Regions from separate parts of the Homo sapiens genome. Here region 2 is linked to region 1. The links come from fine-mapping of genetic effects on gene expression. Tissue or cell type: whole blood. Region 1 holds a variant in brackets; the other region holds the start of a gene. All regions are shown on one strand. Distances are from middle to middle.

Region 1 (8,099 bases):
TCGTCTCAAAAAAAAAAAAAGGGCCGGGCACAGTGGCTCACGCCTGTAATCCCAGCACTTTGGGAGGCCGAGGCGGATGGATCACCTGAGTTCAGGAATTTGAGACCAGACTAGCCAACATGGTGAAACCCCGTCTCTACTAAAAATATAAAAAAATTAGCCGGGCGTGGTAGTGGGCGCCTGTAATCCTAGCTACTCAGGAGGCTAAGGCAGGAGAATTGCTTGAACCCAGGAGATGGAGGTTGCAGTGAGCCAACATGGTCCCACTGCACTCCAGCCTGGGTGACAGAGTGAGATTCTGTCTTAAAAAAAAAAAAAAAAAAAAAAGAGTGTAAAGGGGTCTAAAATGAAAATATTTGAGAACCACAGCTCCTAGTAAAGAAGTGGCTCAGAGAATAAACTGCTGGGGTTGTGAAACGGCTCAGAGAAGAAATGATACCTGAGCAGAGTTTTAAAGAACAGGTTGGACGGGCATGGTGGCTCACACCTGTAATCCTAGCACTTTGGGAGGCTGAGGCAGGTGGATCATTTGAGGTCAGGAGTTCGAGACTAGCCTGACCAACATGGTAAAATCCCCATCTCTACTAAAAATACAAAAAAAAAAAAAAATTAGCTGGCCATGGTGGTGTACACCTGTAATTCCAGCTACTTGGGAGGCCGAAGCAGGAGAATCACTTGAATCCTGGAGGCAAAGGTTGCAGTGAGCTGAGATGGTGCCATTACACCCCAGCCTGGGCAACAAGAGTGAAACTCTGTCTCAAAATAAATAAATAAATAAATAACACATAGTGGCTAAAGCAGGTGAATGCATAAATACAAGAAAGTGTGAATCTAAGCTATATGTCCAGAAATCCTAACTGGTTTGGTGTTTCTGGTGTGTGAAATATAAGAGGCAAGGTGGCAGAAGATGGAGCCAGGGAAGAGGTAGGCCATTTCAAGTGACTTCGATGCTTAAACAGCTTGGACTGTATTCTATAAGTACCAGAGGGTCGGTACATGTTTTTTGTTTTGTTTTCTTGTTTTTTTTTTTTTTTTTTTTCCTTGAGATGGAGTCTCACTGCATGCCCAGGCTGGAGTGCGGTGGGGCAACCTCGGCTCACTGCAACTCTGCCTCCTGGGTTCAAGCAATTCTTCTGCTTAGCCTCCTGAATACCTGGGATCACAGGTGCGTGCCATCACCCCTGACTAATTTTTGTATTTTTATTAGAGACAGGGTTTCACCATGTTGGCCAGGCTGGTCTCAAACTCCTGGCCTCGGGTGATCTGCCTGCCTCGGCCTCCCAAAGTGCTGGGATTACAGGTGTGAGCCACCATGCCTGGCCAGCACATGATTTTAAGCAGTGGGAAATTATGGTCTGACCATATAGAGGCCGATGCAATAGCTTTGAAACAAAGGCAGAACGTGGAAGGCATGGGCAGAAAAATTTAGGAAACAGAGTCAAGTTGATAGACCTTGGTGACTACTTCTAGGAGCCTGGGAGAAGAGAATTAATTGTGTCCCTGTTTTTTGGTTGAGACACTGGTGGTAGTACCAACCAGGAACACTATTCCTCCTATAACCATAGCCTTCTCCATCTTGGTTGACGGCAATGATATCTTCCAATTGCTCAGGCCTAAAGACTTGGAGACATTTTGATTCCTATCTTTCATACCCCACATTTTATTGGCTCTACCTCCAAAACACATCCAGAATCTGACTACATTACATCCACTACTACCATTCTAGTCCAAACCACCATCATTTCTCTCCTGGGTTACTGCAATAGCTTCCTAATGGATCTTCTTACTTCTATCCCTGTGTCCTCTCCCACAGTGTAGTCTCAACAACTCAACCACAGTGATCCTTCTGACACATTAGTCAAATCATGTCCCTCCTCTGCTTAAAATCAAAGAATGTTTCCTCATTTCACTCAGCCAATGCCAAAGTCCACAGTGGTTTCATTCCATGACTTCCTTTTTTTGAGACAGAACTCTCGCTCTGTCACCTAGGCTGGAGTGCAATGGTGTGATCTCGGCTCACTGCAACCTCTGCCTCCCAGGTTCACATGATTCTCCCACCTCAACCCACCAAGTAGCTGGGATTACAGGCACCTGCCATCATGCATGGTTAATTTTTGTATTTTTGTAGAGACAGGGTTTCACCATGTTGGCCAGGCTGGTCTTGAACTCCTGACCTCAGGTTATCACCTGCCTTGGCCTCCTAAAGTGCTGGGATTACAGGTGTGAGCCACCGTTCCATTACTTCTGACTGCATTTCTTACTACTTTGCTCTTTACTCGTCCTGTCCAGTCACATCTGGCTTCCTTGCTGGTGCTCATTCGGTTCAGTCACACCCCTGCCTTAGGGCTTTTTATTGGAAAATGACAAAGGGTTTCTCTCTGTAGCCCAGGTTGGAGTGCAGTGGTGCAATCACGGCTCACTGCAGTCCCCAATTCCTGGGTTTAAGTGATTCTCCTGCCTCAGATTCCCATGCCACCAGCTTATTTTATTTTATTTTATTTTAAGACAGAGTCTCGCTCTGTTGCTCAGGCTGGAGTGCAGTGGCGCAATCTGGGCTCACTGCAACCTCCGCCTCCCGGCTTCAAACAATTCTCCTGTCTCAGATTCCTGGGTACTTGGGATTACAGGTTGCCCACCACCATGCCCAGCTGATTTTTGTATTTTTAGTAGAGATGGGGTTTCACCATGACGGGCAGGCTGGTCTCAAATTTCTGACCTCAGATGATCTGCCTGCCTCAGCCTCCCAAAGTGCTGGGATTACAGGCATGAGCCACTGTACCCAGCCGCCACCAGCTAATTTTTAAATGTTTTGTAGAGATGGACTCTCCCTATGTTGCCCAGGCAGGTCTCAGACTCCTGGGCTCAAGGGATCCTCCTGCTTCAACCTCCCAAATTGTTTCGGGATTATAGATGTGAGCCACTGTGCCTGGTTTCATGTCAATATCTTTTTTTTTTTTTTTTTGAGACGGAATCTTGCTCTGTCACCCAGGCTAGAGTGCACTGGCGCGATCTCGGCTCACTGCAACCTCCACCTCCTGGGTTCCAGTGATTCTCGTGCCTCAGCCTCCCGAGTAGCTGGGGACTGCAGGCACGCACCACGCCTGGCTAATTTTTTGTATTTTTAGTAGAGACAGGGTTTCGCCATGTTGCTTGGGCTGGGTCTTCAGCTCCTGAGCTGAGGCAGTCTACCAGCCTCGGCCTCCCAAAGTGCTAGAATTACCGGCATGAGCCACCATGCCTTGCTAATTTTTGTATTTTTAGTAGAGACAGAGTTTTGCTATTTAGGGCAAGCTGGTCTCTGACTCCTGACCTCAAGTAATACACCCACCTTGGCCTCCCAAAGTGATGGAATTACAGGCATGAGCCACCACACCTGGCCCCATTTTTGTTTTGTTTTGTTTTTTTTTTTTTGAGACAGAGTTTCAAACGCTCTTGTTGCCCAGGCTGGAGTGCAATGGTGCAATCTCAGCTCACTGAAACCTCCACCTCCCGGGTTTCAAGAGATTCTCCTGCCTCAGCCTCCTGAGTAGCTGGGATTACAGGCATGTGCCACCACGCCCAGCTAATTTTGTATTTTTAGTAGAGATGGGGTTTCTCCAAGTTGGTCGTCAGGCTGGTCTCAAACTCCCGACCTCAGGTGATCCGACCGCCTCGGCCTCCCAAGGCGCTGGGATTACAGGCGTGAACCACTGCGCCTGGCTAATGTTTGTATTGTTGTAGAAACGAGGTTTCACCATTTTGGCCAGGTTGGTCTCGAACTCCTGACCTCAGGTGATCTGCCCGCCTTGGCCTCCCAAAGTGCTGGGATTACAGGCGTGAGCCAGCGCGCCCGGCCGATTACCAGTTGTTTTTAATATAGATAAATACATAGAGATAGATATATCTCTATCTATCTCTATAGATATATATCTCTATAGAGATAGAGAGAGAGAGAGAGATAGATAGAGATAGATAGATAGATATCGGCCGTGGAGGTTGCGGTGAGCCAAGATCGCGCCACTGCACTCCAGCCTGGGCAACAAGAGCGAAACTCCGTCTCAAAAAAAAAAAAGAAAGAAAGAAAGAAA[AG/G]AAAGAAAAGAAAAAGAAAAAAAAACTGGTAATCAATTTATTAAAATAGTTGACTTAAGCATCTGCAATGGTGACTTCCACCTCAACTCCTGGCTCAATACTGATGGAAGTAATCTGCTTAACAATCTCAGAAGGACTGTGCAAGTCAATGAGTCACTTGTGGATTCTCATCTGGAAATGATCCCATGTCTTAGAACCTTCACCACAAAGTTTTTCTTGAAGTGATTCTCAAAGTCTTGGCAGGCATTCGAACTGGTCCTTTCACTTTGAGATTATTTTCCTTTGCTCCTCTGATCAAGTCAGCACACACCTTCTCCAGGGATTTTACGATGCGGCTCGTTAGAGTGACTCGAATTCGTGAATTGCCACCTCCGCCTCCCTGGGTGTTTTTCCGGTATCCTTAAAAGCCATGGCTGCTGCGCGGCTTCCTGAGCGACTGGTTCCTCGGCGAGGGCGAACAGCGGTGAGTCAGTAGCAGGAGCGTGCGGATCAGCGATCCGCAACACCTACGACCGCGTCTTCCTCAAAGAGCTATTTATCTATATACATTTTTGAGACGGAGTCTAGCTCTGTCGCCCAGGCTGGAGTGCAGTAGCGCGATCTCGGCTCACTGCCGCCTCTGCCTTCTGGGTTCAAGCGATTCTCCTGCCTCAGCCTCCGGAGTAGCTGGGATTACAGGCGCCCGCCACCACGCCCAGCTAATTTTTGTATTTTTAGTAGAGACGGAGTTTCCCTGTGTTGGCCAGGCTAGTCTCGATCTCCTGACCTCGTGATCCACCCGCCTCGGCCTCCCAAAGTGCTGGGATTACAAGCGTGAGCCACAAGGCCCGGCCACTATTTATATTTTACACTTGATCTTGGCCAAAAGGCCGAGAAGCGATACTATTTATATTTTTATAATACATATCCCCATCTAACATACTACATACTGCAATTACTTATTATATCTTTTGTTTAGTGTCTAATATCCTCCTCCACCTGCACCCCAGCAGAATGTAAGCTCCATAAGGAAAAGAATGTTGATCTATTTTGTTCTCTGATGTAATCCGCTGTACGCCCTGGACAGAACCTGCTGTAAAGTAGGAGCTCAATAAGTATGTGAATTAATGTATCGTGGGAAGGAAAGAACCCAGAGAATAAGGGGCGGCTGAAGCTGTGAAAGGAGCAATTAGGCCTGGCGCGGGGGCTCACGCCTGTAATCCCAGCACTTTGAGGGACCAAGGCGGGCAGATCACTTGAGATCAGAAGTTCGAGACCAGCCTGGCCAATAACATGGCGAAACCCCGTCTCTACTAAAAATACAAAAATTAGCCCAGCGTTGTGGCGGGCGCCTGTGGTCTCAGGTACTCTGAGGCTGAGACAGAGAATTGCTTGAACCCGGAAGACGGAGGTTGCAGTGAGCTGAGATCTCGCCACTATACTCCAGCCTGGGCGACAGAGTGAGACTCGGTCTCAAAAAAAGAAAAAAAGAGTGTGTGTTGGGGGGGACGGGTCAATAAATAGAGCAATACTGTATATGTAAAATACAGAATGGTATGATACCAAGAACACATAGATGGAATGATCTGCAGCACTTCTCAACTGTATTACATTCAACGAAACCGTTTAGAGCTTGTTCTCCCTCCCTCCCCCACTTTCTTTGTTCCTTGGGGAACCCCCACACGGCACAAACCGTGTTTTAATTCCTATTCTCTAGTGTGCAGATAAGTGCCTGGCACTATTAAGTGGTCAAAAGAGGTCGTGAGCAAGTTAACAAATCACTGTTTCCATGTCCCTAACTACTCTTAAGCTCGTAGAGAAGATACTTCCTATCTCTTGCGCTTCTACCTCAACTCCCACTTCGCAGAGAGGGCTAAAAGCGACGTCGTAAACTTATTACGTAATAAGGCAGCGCCCAGAGGCGGAAGAGGCCGGTTTTTGCTCCGGCCACGTGAGGAGGGTGGGCGGGGCGTTAAAGTTCATATCCCAGTGTCCTTTGAATCGACTTCCTTTTTTCTTTTTTCCGGCGTTCAAGATGTCGAAGCGAGGTGAGGTTTTGTTTCTGGAGGATCCTCCACCATCTGTCGTGCAGTGGCTGGCGGATTCGTCAGGAGCGGTGGCCCTAGGCAGCTGGGGCGCTTTGCTCTCCTTCAGGCCGGAGAGAGAGAGCCAGGCCACCGCGAGAGCACTGCCAGGGCCCTCGAAAGTGGCAGTGGGGTGCTGGAGAGTTGAGATGGCAGGATCCCGACGTGAATGTAGTCTGGATACCGCGAGATCGCTCCGCGAATAGGGCTATCGTAATGGGGTTGAAGTTAGACTGGATTAGGCCCTGGTTTGCGCGACCTCTGCGGTTTTATGCCTTGCAGGAGTAATTGCGTTTTGCGAAAGTTAGAGCAAGGGTTGAGTCGTCTAGGTTTCTTAATTTCGATGTCAGAGTGTTAATAGTAAGAAATAGGCTACTTTCCGTGAGAATCGGGTGGCACATGGGGACGGCATAAGTAAAATCCGAGCGAGCTAATCTATAGCGTACAGTCTATCAAAGCATGTGCGGTGAATTACAGCTTGAGTATGAGGGGGAACTCCGAACCATGTCTAGATTGTGATCTCTTTATCCTGTTTCCCTTCCCTTTATATCCACAGGACGTGGTGGGTCCTCTGGTGCGAAATTCCGGATTTCCTTGGGTCTTCCGGTAGGAGCTGTAATCAATTGTGCTGACAACACAGGTGAGGTCTTTGCACGTTGCTATACTCCCCCTTTTAAAAGCACTCAATGGGCCTGTGGCTAATGACCTATTGAGCCGTCAAGAAAGGGGAGAGTGAAAACATCGCTTTTGGGTGAAGTGGCAACATGTGTTGTTTGCTTCAATCGGTGGTGTGACAAGGCGTTCTTGCGGACTAACTGCTTGGGCAGTGAGTGGAGGGAGGGGCTTTGGAAGTGTTTGGGAAATGTTATACTGATGGAACGGCCTGATGGCCCTCAACATTTTTTATTTTTATTTACATTCTTTTGTAGGAGCCAAAAACCTGTATATCATCTCCGTGAAGGGGATCAAGGGACGGCTGAACAGACTTCCCGCTGCTGGTGTGGGTGACATGGTGATGGCCACAGTCAAGAAAGGCAAACCAGAGCTCAGAAAAAAGGGTGAGTAAACACTGAGCCCACCTTAATACTGATGAGTAGTGGGGGGACGCTTTCCTTTATTGGAAAATGGATCAGTTTTCAAGGCCTCAAGTTTGTTTTCCATTGAGAGGCAGTGTGAGATAAGTATCTTAAGTTTTTGCTCATATTGTGTTGGAGGGGGGACCATCATCTTGTCACTTCCATACCTTAGTTGTTTTTTTGTTGTTGTTTTTGTTTTGTTTTGTTTTGTTTTTTGAGATGGAGTCTCTCTCTGTCGCCCAGCCCATACTGGAGTGCAATGGCACGATCTTGGCTCACTGCAACCTCCGCCTCCTGGGCTCTCAAAAAAAAATATATTACAAAACGAAAACAAGCTGCCCGTTGCTTATTTTATTATTTGTTTTTGAGATGGAGTCTCACTTGTTGCCCAGGCTGGAGTGCAGTGGCACATATCTGTTCACTGCAACCTCCACCTCCCGGGCTCAAGAGATTGTCCTGCCTCAGCCTCCCGAGTAGCTGGGATCATAGGTGTGCACCACCACACCCGGCTAATTGCTCATTACTTAATCTCAGGCTCCCCACTCAAAATTTTTCCTGTCAGGTGTATGATTTAAAGGGGGAGGCCTCAAAATACTTGCAGCTTGTGTCCTGTCTGGCTTTAGAACTTCTGGTGTTTGGTGCATTTTAACTTCAGCGCTTGCACTTTTTTCCTGTGCCTGCCTAATCTGTCTCTACCCTGGGATGTCTTGCTCTTCTAAAGAGTTCCTGGCCATCCCTTGATTTACAAATGTGATGTTGATTTGTCAGCCCTGTATTACAGTTACTCCTATTCCTGTATCCACCCCACGATGCTGTCCAGTAGATTTTTAGCCTTTGGGTTAGAAATTGTTTTTTGTTCACCATTAATATCCATTTGAGGGCTGGGTAGCAC
Region 2 (8,082 bases), 110 kb after region 1:
TGTGGCTGCGGAAGAGACTTGCGACACGGTGCATAGTGGGATCTCGGCGGACCTGGACTCGGGACCTCAGGGACTGGGGGCGGAGCCTGCGCGCACGTGGGCTGGTGAAACTGGGTTTAGGAAGCTGCGGCCCCAGCTGAAGGGGCACCGTGACGCTTATCAACGTGATGTATGAGTTCGTCGTATTAGTCGTGCTAGCTTATTTATTCACTCCAGAAATCCTGCGTTTACTGTGTACCAGGCACTTGCCTAGGCTCGGAATATTCACTGGCCCACAACAGTGCCTAGTATATAGGAGGCGCCCATTAAATGGAAATTTAATGATGCAGGTGGGAAGGGGAAGGCGTCGCGTGTAGGCGTCGCGGGTATTTTGCGGCTGCAGGGGTTCAGCTGTGAAAGGGAGTTTGGAAGCCGAAGCTTGTTCTGATTTGGGGGACTTCCTGCGGCCCGACTTCACGTATCCTCAATCTCAGGTCACCCTAAAAAGGGACGTTCCGCGCCTCTCCACGTTTGAGGTAGAACCTGAGGATAGCCAGAGTCGACCTCTCGCCGTTCCAATGGAGGAAGGGCGTGCACGTCCCGCGTCCTCTCCTCCCAAGCTCTTTCGCCTCCCTCCCCCATCAGGATCCTTCCCTTTCTCCCCCGGGTTCCACTTATTTCGCCCGATGGCGGCATCTCTTACGGCGTCTGCGCCGTCCAGGCTCGCTCCCATTGACTCGGCTCACTACTACGCCGGTAGTCGACTCGGTCTCTGTGGCGCAATCGGTTAGCGCGTTCGGCTGTTAACCGAAAGGTTGGTGGTTCGAGCCCACCCAGGGACGCTATGACCTTTTTTTTTTTTTTTTTTGTCTTTTGGGTTTTTTTTTTCTCCCCGGAAGATAAAAACCTAAGCCTTTTACTCAAAAGCCAAATTTTGCATTGAAATGGCAGCAGCAATACTTTTTCTAGGAGAATCACTGTTCTTGAAAATTCTTTGCTGCTCAGTCAATAATGGGATAATTTCTCCAGCACTTCCCTCCACACCCCCCCAACCCGCCTCCAAGCTAGATCGCAGGAAACCTAAAGACACAGGTTTTTGTCTCACTGTGCATGCAACACGTTTCAGGATGCATTTTTTCATAGGATTAAGAATGAATTTACAGTGGAGGTTCGACAGTTTTCTATTGTCTGCCTCAATCGATATTACAGTCTCCAAATACTACATTTGGAAGGGAAGAGAATGAGAGAGACACAGAGAGAGAAACAAGTATGAAGAGAAACAAAGGTGAGAAAGGGAGAACATTGTTGTGATACAGGGAAAGAAGGGACGTGACAGAACTAGGCAGGGTGGGTAGGGGAAGACCTCAAGACAATGGAGAGTGGGAAAATAGACGCATTTAATATTAGAAGCATCAGAAAAAAAGGAAAACAACACATTTTTTCCCCCTAGAACTACACAGGGAGGTGGGGGAGGAAGATGGGGAAATAGAAGGAGAAACTGACTAAGGACCTTGTTTGGGGGAGATAAAAGGTATAAAGGACACAGAGGTAAAGACGTTCCGGAAAGCTCTAGAGGAGCCGCCCTCTCCTGTCTCGTCACCATTTTTAAAGGGATCTGATCCTCGCAATAGCTCTTGGTATATGCTGGAGGTAATTGCCTAGATTTCCCGCGTTCCTGTCCTCTGCGAGTCTCTGGCTTGTGACAGCCACTGTGACTCTTCTGATGCACTTGTCAGCTAGAGGACCGCGTGAGATGCAAACACAAAATCAAGGGGCGCCTAATGTCTGACGAGGCGCATTCCTGGGCGCAGTGGGAGCCTCGACCTTTGTGGAGGAGAATGTGCAAAGCACTCTTGAGCAGTTCTCATAGACACTTGGTCTCTGCAGATTCGGCTCAAAGGAGGCCTCTTCTGGAAGCCCACCCCAGTACTCACCCACCCTTAGCGGGAGCTCACACCAGAAGCGATGGGCGCTAAAGGGACAGGCTGTGTGTCCTTCAGGGTTTGCACCCACCGGCCTGTGAGCGCCCTGCGCAAAAGCCAGGCTCCTGTGCCTTGAGTTCCCAGTTCCTAGCGCAGTATTTGACACTGGCACATGACAGGTGCTTTCTATGTCGGCTAGTAGTAGAACAAAAGACTAGGAAACTCTTTCGATGTGGGAAGAGTTGGGTCAGAAGGTTCTCCTGAGAAACCAGAAAGGCCAGGAATGTGGAGACTAGTCATCCAGGACGCAAAAGATGAAAATGGAGTTTTAGTGGGTAATAGGGTCTTAGCACACTCCTCTCTAGCGGTTCTCTCCTGTCTGGCGCTTAACAACCGAAGAATAAGTGGATGGACCCCGGTGGCCCCTCGGGCAGCCCTCCAGGATTCATGGGCCGCAGAGGAACGTCAACCCCCTTCCCACTGGCTGATAATGCCCCGAGGGGCAGCCCCCCAGGTGCCCATGTGGTTGGTGGGTGGGATCCAGATCTCCGCAGAGCCCCTGTTACAGGTTTCTCTTGTTCGGGGTCTTGTAGCCAGAGAGGGGCGGCTGACTGGGAGTCCTTCCCGCGTTCCCCTCCCTGCAGAGCGAGTGGATGCGCGTCTTCCCCGGCAGAGTGCAGGATGCCGGCGACACATTTGCCTGGGAACAGTGGGAGGGTCCCCTTTCCTCCGGGGCCGGTGAACTACTCGCCTCTCCGCCTGCAGGCTCCGGAGCAGGTGACCGGATCTTCCCTTGGCCCTTCTCCCGCCGGTTCTCGGACCACTCCCTCTGGAAGGAAGTCTCTCCGCCCTTCCTCTTCCTCCCCGCCCCCGTCCCGCTGGTGTGGCTGCAGGCTCGAGCTGGGGTCACTCGGCGGCCAGTGTGCGCAGGTCTCCTGGTCGCCGGCCAGAGGGCGAAAGCATTCACCCGAGGCCCCCAGCTTCGCGGCTGCCTTGGCTGCGAGCAACGAGGGAAGAGGAGGCAGGCGCTCCAAAACTGGGCGAAGATTCCTATCCTAATTTCTAACTCGAGCCTCCCACCGTCAGTGCGCTTAATGGCGCTGCTGGCCGGATGGATAATCGAGCTCTCTGGAGGGACAGACGCGGCCGCCATCCCTAATAAATCGTGAATAACGAATGAGGGAATCGACCATCCTCATGAGGCCCACGGGCGTCCAGTAACGCAGTATCGATTCGCTTCCCCGGCGTCGGCCTCACCGCTACTCCCGGCGTTTCCAAGCCTCCCTCCTCGTTCTCTCCCTCCTGCCGGAGCCACTGCGGACCGGAGCCCCAGCGCCAGGTGGAGCCGGGGCGCCAGTGGGAGTCGGGCCCAGCCGTCTTGGCGCTCGCCCGACTCTCCCGCCCGCGCGCCCAGGGAGGCGCACAGGCAGCGCGCAGCGCAGGGCGCGAGCGAAAAATGCGGGAATCAGCGCCAGGCAGGAGAAAAGGCGCGGGCCCACCTTACAGCCCGGCGCCTCGTTTCCTAGTCCAGTGTGGCCGCTCGCCTTCGGCCGGATTATTGTGTCCCAGACCCGGAGCCTGAGTTCCCATCCTCAGCGGGCCTCCGTTCTTCTCTGCCCGAGCACGCCGGGGGCGCAGCCTCCGCCAGAGCTACCCGATCCCCCCGCGGCGAGGCCCCCCACCCGGCCTCACCCCGCACCTCCACTCCCCTCTCGCGATTGCTCCCTGCCAGGCGCCCAGGCTGGATCCTGGTGCGCCGCTTTTCGGGGCCAGCGCCCCTGCCGCCGAGGGGGCAAGGGGAGTGGGGAGGACACGCTCGCCCTCCCAGATGCAGTTATTAATTTTAAGGGAGTGTCACTTGGAGTGAATGAAAATCGCTCGGACGCCTGGCTGAAGGCGTCGCGTCCCCCGCCGGAGCCCCGCGCCCTTTGGTCTAGGCCGGGGCGTGGAGGACCACGAGCCACCTTTCAGCCCAGTCCCCATTTCACCATTTTCCAGGCGCCCCAGTTAGGGATGGGCATCACAGTGTCAGTGGGGGGAACCCATATTTTGAAGGGAGGGGGGCTAACTGCGGAAGGTAACATAAGAGAATCCATCCTCCGGGGTCGGGGCGGCCGCATGGGAAGGGAGGGGTCTCGTCCTGGCTAGGGACCCGGCAGCCGGTGGCGGGGAGCGGCCGCGCCAGCCTCCCCCTCCTCTTCCCGTCTCTGCCAGCATCCTGAAGGAATGAGGTCACGTGGGTGAGTGGTGGGCGGGACCTACTCTTGTCTGGAGGAAAAAAGCCATTTTGTCTCCCCCCCACACTCCGGTCCCTCCCCTCCCCCCTCGGTCCCCTCCCCTCCCCTCTCCCTCCCACCCCAAGCCGCTTTCACAAACTCCTTTCTTACCGTAGGTTTCTCCCCTCCCGCCGCCCGGGCGAGCGACACGGCTGCGGCCCCCCTCCCCTCCCTTCCCTCCCTCCCTCCCATCCCCCCCTCCCCGAGACCCACCGGACCCCGAACCCAGGTAAGCGGAGCGGACTCCCCCTGCCTTTCCCTCTCCTGGCCTGTAACCCTCTGGGGATTGGGATGGGGGCCGGCCGTTCTTCGCAAGCCCCGATGGGAGGGGGAGGCTCTGAGCCGATCCTGCCTTCGCACCCCCCGCGCCCCGTCAGTCCCTAGCCCAGCTTGCCCCGTCCGCCTTTCTTTCTCCCTTTTTTCTGTCCCTTTTTCCCTTTCCTCTCTTCCAAGATGGCCGAAACGGGCTCCCCGTCTTAACGATTTGGCGTCTCCCTCGACCACCACCTCTTTGTGCAGCAGCCCCCGGGCAGACCCTGTTCCGAGGTAGCGAGGGGGAAGGTCCGGGGCAGCCGGGAGGGCTTGCGGGATGCGCGCTGGGTTGGGTCGCCGCTCCCCACGAGCCAAAGCCGCCTCTCGCTCTGCCCGGTCTACCCCCTTTTCCATCTGGGCGGGGGTCGCTCTCCCGTGGGCACAGGGGCGCCGTGGACGCGCGGGGACTTGGGGCCGGCAGAAGGGGATGTGCTTTGGGGCGGCCGCGAGGCCGGGGGAGGGCGCCCTTCCCCGCCGGGGTCCGGGTCCTCTCGGGCACCTCCCCCCGCCGGTCCCCGCTCCCCGTCCCGGCGCCGGCGCCCCGCCCCCTCCCCGAACCACCTCAGCAGAGCCTCCCTCCGGAACACCCCTCCCGGGGCCCCGCAGAAAGTTTGGCTCTAGGGAAGGTGGGAGCGGCCACCCGGTAACTGGGGTCCCTGATCCTTGGACATGGGCTCCTGGGGAAGCCCGGGCGCTGGGGGTAGAATGGGGATGGAGGGAAATTTATCGCAATATTTCCCATCGCCAGCGGAAGCAGGGGGATCTGCTAAACTGGCCCCCCTTCCCCTGGGACGCCCAGCCACCCCACCCTGCGCACGCCCTCCTACTGCTAGCTCTGAGGGCGTGGGACCCCCGGGCAAGCAGACACCCCCTGCCTGTCTCCACGGTGGGCCCGGGCTGCCCCTCGCCCTCCCCCACTGCCCCTGTCTGCCCATAATCGCTCCGGTTGGCTTGAGGTGGGAGGAGGCGGCATGGAGGCGGGTGGATTTGCCAGTGAATATTGTGGAAGTGTTACCCAGCGCTTCCCGAGATCTTTGTCCCTCAGTGTCCCCCATGCTGCCTCAGTCTCCCCAGAGGTCTGTCTCGAGGGGAGGGCTGTCTCCTGGTTGTCCCCTCCCCGCTCTGTTCTGATGCCTCCTCCTCTGGGACCTCTGGCAGTTTCTGTTCCTGAAACTCTTTAATTTCTCTCCTCCCTCCCCCCTTCACTCTGGTCCAAGGTGTTATTACTGGGAGCATAAAGCCAGCTCTGTTGCAGCTTTTTGGTGGGAAGGTTTTCCCACGGGCTCCCCTGGTTGGGGGTTGGGGGATTGAGGCTTTAGAACTGACTTTGGAATGAAGCAGGAAACCAACCCCAGGATCCAGACCATGTGTAGCTAGGTAGGGTTCAAGTTGAAGTCTTGGGGGTTGGGCAGGAAGGGGGACTCTGCTGCCCCTGGCCTTGCCTGAGAGATCTTGGTTGATGGAGCTGTTGTCATGGGAATGGAGAGAGCCCGAACAGGAAGAGGGTACAGCTTTGTGCAGGTCACATGCCCACTGCAGCCCTCCAGCCTCTGGTCCCCAGAGCGGACTTTGGAAGCTGAACTGCTTTTGTTGCTGGAAGACTTATGTTATAATTTACCCTGGGTGGACCAGGGTCGTACAAAAGGTTAGTGTGTGTTTGCAGGGTCTGTTTCCAGGCAGGGATGTCAGGCTGTGTGCTTCTAGGTGGGGGGTGGATGTGGATGGCTTCTGCATGTAGCGAGGGTGGGCCTGGCTCTGGTCTGGCTGTGATTGTGTGTGTGTGTGGCGCAGGGTGGGGGAGGGTTGTGGCGTGTCTATCTGGCCTTGTGTGTAGTGAGTGTGAGAGGTGGAGGGGGGTGTGTCTTGCTGTATGTGTGTGTATCTGGCAATGTGTATATTTTGGGGTTTTGCCTTTGTTTGATCTTAGGGAGTTGAGAGGTGGGAGAGGGAGGAAGGGAGGGTTGAGTAAGCCCAGCTTCAGGAGGCCCTTTTCAATGCATGGTGGGGACAGGGGAGCAGATCTTTGTGCCATTGTCAAGGATTGGGGAAAGTTGGGAGGTTCACAGTGTCCCTAGGCAGACCCTCACGGCCCCAAACACAAATACAAGGGGCTTGCGCAGTTGGACCCACGAAGCTGGGAGAGGAACAGAGTCATAAAACCCCTGGTCTGAGTCTTGATGCTGTACTCTGGCTGGCTGTGCTTCCCTGCAGCCTCTGTTTCCCTATGTGTAGGAAGTGGGGTAAGGCAATTAACATGTGCCTCCTCTTCCTGCCTCAAGGCAGGAGTCCATGCTGATGGTCATGTTTGGGCCAGACTGACTCCCTCCCAGACGGCGGCCCACTGAGTGGTTTTCCCGCCACTCCAGGGAGCTGCTCTTTTCCCCTCCCACCTGCTGGGATGAAGCCGGGCATTACTGCTTTAGATGAGTGAGGAGCCTGGCCAGGTGCCAGGATGTTAAAAGCACTGGGGTGGGAGTCAGGCACTTTCTTGTCACAGGACTGCCACTGCTTTGCTTTGTGACCTTAGACAAGTCACATCTGAGTGTGCTCATCTGTAAAATGAAAGGATTGAACAGGTGCTTCTTTTTCTTTTTCTCTTTTTTTGAGATGGAGTTTCTTTCACTCTGTGGCCCAGCTTGGAGTGCAGTGGCACGATCTCCACTCACTGCAACCTCTGCCTCCCAGGTTCAAGCAATTCTCTGGCTCAGCCTCCTGAGTAGCTGGGATTACAGGCGCCTGCCACCATGCTCCGCTAATTTTTGTATTTTTGTTTGTTTGTTTGAGACAGAGTCTCGCTCTGTTGCCCAGGCTGGAGTGCAGTGGCGCAATCTCGGCTCACTGCAACCTCTGCCTCCTGGATTCAAGCGATTCTCCTGCCTCAGCCTCCCGAGTAGCTGGGACTAGAGGCGCGTGCCACCACACCCAACTAATGTTTTGTATTTTTAGTAGAGACGGGGTTTCACCATGTTAGCCAGGATGGTCTCGATCTCCTGACCTCATGATCCGCCCGTCTTGGCCTCCCGAAGTGCTGGGATTACGGACGTGAGCCACCATGTATTTTTAGTAGAGATGGGGTTTCACCATCTTTGCCAGCCTGGTTTTGAACTCCTGACCTCATGATCCATCCGCCTTGGCCTCCCAAAGTGTTGGGATTACAGGTGTGAGCCACCACGCCCAGCTGAACAAGGTGCTTTCTAAAAGCCCTTTCACCTCTGCAGTTCTAGACATCTGGATGTGACCTTGAGTGACTTTTCCCAAGACCTGGAGACATTCTAGTGAGGGAGTGGGGCTGATTTCATTTGGAGGCAGGGAGAGCAGAGAGAGCTATGGCATCAGAGAAGCACAGGGGCCTTGGGGCTGGGAGACCCACTGTTTCCACAGGGGACCATGAAGAAGTGAGAGAGGCCTAAATTGCAGGGTGGCTTCCAGAAAGACACTGGTTAAAATGGAGAGATGGGTCTGGGTGTGGTGGCTCATGCCTGTAATCCCAGCAGTTTGGGAGGCCGAGGCGGGCAGATCACTTGAGGCCAGGAGTTGGAAACCAGCCTGGCCAACATGGTGAAACCCTGTCTCTACTAAAAATACAAAAATTA

The links. PIP is the estimated chance that this variant, and not a neighbour inherited with it, causes the effect.
Region 2: it holds the start of PCGF2, and the variant in region 1 is fine-mapped to the expression of PCGF2 in whole blood (INTERVAL, PIP above 0.99).

What each region holds. Positions count from the first base shown.
Region 1 is chr17:38,851,694-38,859,792 of GRCh38, reverse strand. RPL23 (ribosomal protein L23) reads left to right here and starts at 6,072. Exons shown (of 5, transcript NM_000978.4): 1 at 6,072-6,095; 2 at 6,688-6,771; 3 at 7,061-7,189. The coding sequence starts at 6,083. It overlaps SNORA21 (small nucleolar RNA, H/ACA box 21), which reads left to right and starts at 6,798; the gene lies at 6,798-6,930. It also overlaps the pseudogene RPS20P35. RefSeq lists enhancers at 5,819-5,928, 5,652-6,435, 5,926-7,125, 6,436-7,219. The variant AG/G (reference allele first, on the strand shown) is at 4,068.
Region 2 is chr17:38,744,520-38,752,601 of GRCh38, reverse strand. It overlaps PCGF2 (polycomb group ring finger 2), which reads left to right and starts at 4,266. Exons shown (of 11, transcript NM_007144.3): 1 at 4,266-4,406; 2 at 4,631-4,723. TRN-GTT2-5 (tRNA-Asn (anticodon GTT) 2-5) reads left to right here and starts at 748; the gene lies at 748-821. LOC100287808 (a long non-coding RNA gene) reads right to left here and starts at 3,568. Exons shown (of 1, transcript NR_149004.1): 1 at 850-3,568. RefSeq lists enhancers at 4,133-4,668, 5,697-6,461, 6,462-7,227.